2 separate regions of the Homo sapiens genome follow, and region 2 is linked to region 1. The links come from fine-mapping of genetic effects on gene expression. A gene starts in region 1. The other region holds a variant in brackets. All regions are shown on one strand. Distances are between the middles of the regions.

Region 1 (2,760 bases):
ACCATGGCCCATTACAGTCTACCAACGAGACATCACTGAGTGTGGGCCGGGAAAACGCACGTGCAGTAAGCACATTATGATACGTAATACTGGAAATGGTAGGAAGTGGACAGACTTCAGAGTTATTTAGGAAGTAGAATCTTGGCGATTTGTTAGATGCCGAGGTGAAGGCAGAGTTTGGGAAACACTGGATAGTGGTGTCTTCACTATCACAGGGAGACAGGGAGTTGAAAGCAAGCAGGGAAAGGACGCATTCAGTTTTGGATGGGTTCCATTTGAGGTGCTTGTTACCAGGAGTAGCTGAATAGGAAGCTAGATAAACGGATTTGGAGCTCAGAGGAGCAAAGATTAGAGTTGCAAATTTGGGATATATTGATTTAAATGTTGACAGCAGGTTAAATCATTCAGGGAAAAATTGTGGAGTAAGAGGAAAGGTCTGAGACCTTGAAAACTCTGTTATTTGGTGGTCACCCAGAGTAGACAAGCACGCCAAGACTGGGGACAGACAGGAAAGTGGAGCACCCCCGCCACAGGAAGACGTGTTTTAAGGAGAAAGAAGGAATTTTGCTCAGATCAGTTAACACGAGAAAGGAGAGTGTCCTTTGACTTTAGTGATGTGGATGCTACTTGCGACAATTAAAAAGGCAATTTCACCGAGTGTGAAAACGAACACGTGGAGTTGAGAGACCACAAAACTGGGGGCAGGCGCCTCTTTCACCAACTTCAGCGATGGAAAGTAGAAGAGGGTGGCAGCAAGGGTACGTGGAGTAGAGAATCTTGGAATGATGAAATGCCGAGGATACGGATTCCAGTCCAGAGGGAGCAACGGATCGGATTCTGCGATACTGGAAAAACAGAAGGTGGGGGGGGGGGCTCGGTGATGGAGGGAGCAGGTGTGCAGTTTTGCCGGTGGAAAGTGGAAGTTTCTCTTTTCTCCTGAAGCAGGCGGCAAAGACCTCTGAGAGTGGGAGTGTGGTGGGTGTGCCGGGCCCCTGGATGGGAGTGGAGGTTTGGAACCAAGTGGCCCGAGCCTGCGGTGAGTGGGCCCGCCCTGGGTGGCTCTGGCCGCAGCAGGGTCGATGGGGCGGCATGGTCTCGGCGGGAAGAACACGGCTTCAGTCAGTTCTGTTCTAAGAAGCAGAAGGTGGAGATACGCATGTTTTAAACAACTCCTCCCGGACAGGAAGAAGTGGAGTTCTGGCTGTTCTGCGAGGACGCCGCAGTCCCAGCGTGGAGACCACCGCGCAGGCGAAGCGCGAGACAGGCCAGAAATAGGGTCCCGCGCGCGGACCCCGGAGGAAAAGCGAGGGCTCACTCGGTTTCCCGCAGCCAGCCTCGCCCGACCCAGCTGGGGCCGCCCCTTCCCGCCCCGGCCCCGCCTCCGCCTCAGCTCCGCGCCCACAACCCGGCTTCCTCCTCTCCCGCCGGGTCCGTCTGTCCCTGCGCCTCCTTCGCCGCCGACTAGCGCCCCCTGGCCTGACGTCACCGGCGCGTCCGCCAATGAGCTGAGGAGGGACTTGGCTGTGGCCTGAAAGTGACGGGAGCAGCAGCCAATGGTCGGGCGGAGGGGGCGGGCCGAGACTGGTGCTGGGGGGCGCCCGCGCGCGTGGGGAGCTGCGGGAGGCGCGGCGCGGGGGGGGTCGGGTGCGCGGCGGGCGGCCCCTCCCCCTGCCAGGTCCGGGCGGGTGCCTGGAGCCGCCAGAGTTTCCGCACCCGGGAGGGAGATGCGGCCGGGGCTCAGGCTCCTTGCAGGTAACGCGCGGGGCGGCCCCTGCAGGGCCGAGCGCGCCGCGGGGCGAGCGGAGTTGGACGCGGAGCGGGCGCGGGTTCCCCGCTGCCGCCGTGTCCCGAGCCCCGCACGGCGGCCCGGGCCAGAGCGGCGCTGCTGGAGGAGTTGGTTCCGGGACCTGAGCTGCGGCCCGGGCCGGGGTCACGGGGGACGCGGGCCCCTGTGTGAGCCGCACATGGGACAAAGGGCGCGGCGTGGAGGCTGCGCGCCCCGCCCGCCGCGCTCGGGCCCCTGAGCTTCTCCGCCCGGGCAGAGGTCGCCGCCCCCAGCCCCTGCCTGCACAGCCGCGCCGGCGCTCCCTCGGCCCGGGCGCACCCGGCGCCTGCGGCGCGTCCCCGGAGCGGCCATCTGGCCGCGGGGCCCCGCGCCTGGCCGCCAGCTGGCCGCGGCGCAGGCGATGGCTGGACACAGCCGGGCCGCTTGGCCGCCTGCCCTGGGTTCCGCGGCGGCTCCCCCGCCGCGCCGCGAGCGCCTGCTACTCCACGCTCGGCTGCGGAGCGGAGCGGCGCGAGCGCGGGGCCACCGGCCCGGGCGCCCGGGGCCACCGAGCCGCCGCTTCCCGGCGTGGGCTCGGAGTTTGGGGAAGCCGAGCAGGTGGCGCAGCCACTGCCCACCTCCTGCGAACTCTGCGGGGCTTCTGGTCTTGTTGATGTTGTGGCTATGGGCTGCGTGTGTGTTTTTCTTTTTTTTAAACCACACACAAAAGAAGGGAGGAGTTAGAGGAACGATCTAGCCACTATGAGTCATCCCACACTTCGCTCTTTCCCCGGGAGAGCAAATAAATGCATGGGGAGAATGTCTTGAGAAACAGTTATAGTAGGGACTGACTAGGTCCCCTCCCTGTCCCTTTTCTCTGCAGTCCTGTCTGCGCCGGGCGCGCCCCAGATGGAGTGGGGTAAAATCACGGCCAGTGCACCTAGATAGGGGAAATGGCTACAAGCTAGCAAACTGGAAACTTTCTGGGACAGTGG
Region 2 (3,019 bases), 51 kb before region 1:
CAGGAGTTCAAGACCAGCCTGGTGAACAAGGCAAGACCCTGTCTCTACTAAAACTATAAAAATTAGCCTGGCATGGTGGTGTATGCCTGTCGTCCCAGCTACTTGGAAGGCTGAGGTACGAGAATCGCTTGAACTCATGAGGTAGAAGTTGCAGTATGCTGAGATTTCACCACTGCACTCCTGCCTGGGCAACAGAGCAAAACTGTGTATCAAAAAAAAAAGGGTCAGGATGCTGGTTATCCTTGGAATGGAGCAGGGAGTGACTGGAAAGGGGACAGGAGGCTTCTGGGAGTCTGGTAATGCTTTGTTCCTTAATCCGGGTGCTGGTTATACAGGTGTGCTCAATTTGTAGAAATTCATGAACCGTACACTTATGCTTTATTCACTTTTCTGTATGTGAGTTATAATATAATAACATCATTATTTAAGATGTCAATATAGCCTTTATGCATTATGGATATTTGTACAGTGTTATTTATCTTTCAGATATTTTTCTCGCTCTGACAGTTGTACTTTAACTGCTTTATAGAAAACTGGACAAAATTGACAAGAAGGCAATTCAAAGAGGGTGCCATACATTAAATAGCCAAACAAACATGAAACGACATGCAGTTTCACTGCTAACCAGGGAAATGCAAATGAATACAACATATAACTCTTTCACTCAAATTGGAAAACTTTCTAAAGGTTTATAACATACACTGTTGACAATGAGAATAGGGAAAGAGGCATGCATATGATTTTGGTCAGGGTATAAAATAGTACAGAATTGCTGAAAGGCAGGGTATTAGTCCATTTTCATGCTGATGACAAAGACATACCCGAGACTGGGTAATTTATAAGGAAAAAGCGGTTTAATGGAGTTCCACGTGGCTGGGGAGGCCTCACAATCATGGCTGAAGGCAAAAGGCACATCTCACATGGCAGCAGACAAGAGAAGAGAATGACAGCCCAGCAAAAGGGGTTTCCCCTTATAAAACCATGAGATCTCGTGAGACTTATTCACTACCATGAGAACAGTAGAGAGAAACCGCTCCCATGATTCAATTATCTCCCACCAGGTCCCTCCCACAACACAAGAGAATTATGGGAACTACAATTCAAGATGAGATTTGGGTGGAGACACAGCCAAACCATATCAGGCAGCTTGGGAGTCTTCTGACATTCTTGAGCCGCTGAATTTAGGTAACCAACCATCTATCTGCAAATCTCTAGAGAAGAAAATAAACCCTAATAATTTTTTTAATCTCAATATAGATACCCCCATCTCCATCCAAATTCATACCTTGTGAATTCAGGAACCAAATAGACTCAGAGTTTGGGTAAATCCCTCATTATCTGAACTCTCGCTACACAGCATCCAAAATTTAGAAATTGAAACATATTATATTTACTATTAATATTATTCAAACATTACATTCTTTTGAACCATTTAAACTTACAGTCAAATTTTTTTTTTTTTTTTTTTTTTTTTT[TTTG/G]AGACAAAGTTTCATTCTGCCACCCAGACCGGAGTGCAGAGGTGCAATCTAAGCTCACTGCAGCCTCCACCTCCTGGGTTAAAGCTGTTCTCCTGCATCCACCTCTTGAGTAGCTGGGACTACAGGCACCTACCACCACACCTGGCTAATTTTTTGTGTTTTTAATAGAGATGGGGTTTCACCATGTTCACCAGGCTGGTCTCAAACTCCTGACCTCAGGTGATCCGCCTACCTTGGCCTCGCAAAGTGCTGCGATTATAGGCATGAGCCACTGCGCCCAGCCTTACAGTGAATATTTTTAAATGCCAACTTAAAAATGTACAATGGGGAGGTGGTGTAAATTTTTGAAAAAATCTTTTAAAGCAAAAATTTTTGAAGAAAGCAGTCTTAACATGCCTCTTTTGAAATATATTCTTCAAGCAGACCAAAAATAAGCAAACAAAAATCCATAGGAGTTTATGTACACAATTAACAAGACTAAACAACTAACGTTCTCTGTTTCCGAAAGCAGAGAATATGCATTTTTTTCAAATACCCACTTCATATCTTGAAAAAATAGCCCTATTACAGGCCACACAAAGCTCAAAATAGTTCAAAAAATTGATATCATACTTTCCCAATCACTCCCCACGAAATAATGTTTTAGCCCCAACATATTTTTGCCTGGAAATGTTTAAACACGCATATACAAAGCCTTGAATTAAAGAGGACATCAACAGAGAGGGAAAAAAAGAAACTAACATTTCTTACACTTCTCATGTGCCTGTGGGGTTCCCCTGGGTCTCCCCACGTTGACACCCAGCTGCCACACTTGCCATGCCCCCTCCACTGAGAGCACCTCCCTGTGGCCAGGGCTCTCCCCACCTCCCCCAGCCAGTGTAACTAGCAGGCAAAGGCACCCAAGAGGCAGGGCTGCAGCACATTGCTTGGGCCCTCCGCACGCTCCCAGATAACCTTCTTAAGGGGCTCTGCTGGTGGAAATTCCTGTCCTTCTATGACGAATTAGTGCTGTCTTACTGTTACACACTCGATGTCTGTAACCCCTCCTTTCTTTTGGTTATGAACTCCTTTTCAGTTGCCTCCAGAAAGATCTTAGTTCATTTTTTTCTTGGACTTCATATTTTTCCTCAGCCTAAATTTTCTGATGAAAAAATCTCTTTTTTGTTTTATTATAAGGCTTTGGCTTTTGGCTCTTGTTTAACTGGCTTGATGGTATATAGCTCCTCAAATCATCTTTGGAAATAGATATGGTATAAATATAAAATACGTATACAAACAAATAAAACTTAAAGGGTGAAATTTTCAGGATAGGCTGGAGATCGTCAAAGGTGATATTTTTTGGCAGCTAAGCTCTTGATGAATTGTAGAGTGACCATCTCCCCGACCACTCTGTACAAGAAATTTCCTCCATTCAGAAACAATATAGATTGAACACTGAGAAAACCTTGAATACGGTTATCTCCTGTCCTGAAGATGGTTCAAAACTGCGAAGGAAGAAATGCCTCTTCTGGAAAACTGAGAGTTTAATATTCTACAGACAA

What was found.
Region 2: its variant is fine-mapped to the expression of TMTC4 in whole blood (INTERVAL, PIP above 0.99).

Annotation. Positions count from the first base shown.
Region 1 is chr13:100,673,736-100,676,495 of GRCh38, reverse strand. TMTC4 (transmembrane O-mannosyltransferase targeting cadherins 4) reads left to right here and starts at 1,701. Exons shown (of 19, transcript NM_032813.5): 1 at 1,701-1,752. RefSeq lists enhancers at 1,031-1,110, 2,436-2,760 and silencers at 1,301-1,800, 1,831-2,190, 2,241-2,320.
Region 2 is chr13:100,724,968-100,727,986 of GRCh38, reverse strand. All of the region lies in intron 1 of NALCN-AS1 (NALCN antisense RNA 1), which reads right to left. Among named protein-coding and RNA genes, the nearest start is that of NALCN-AS1, 18 kb to the right of the region's middle. The variant TTTG/G (reference allele first, on the strand shown) is at 1,476.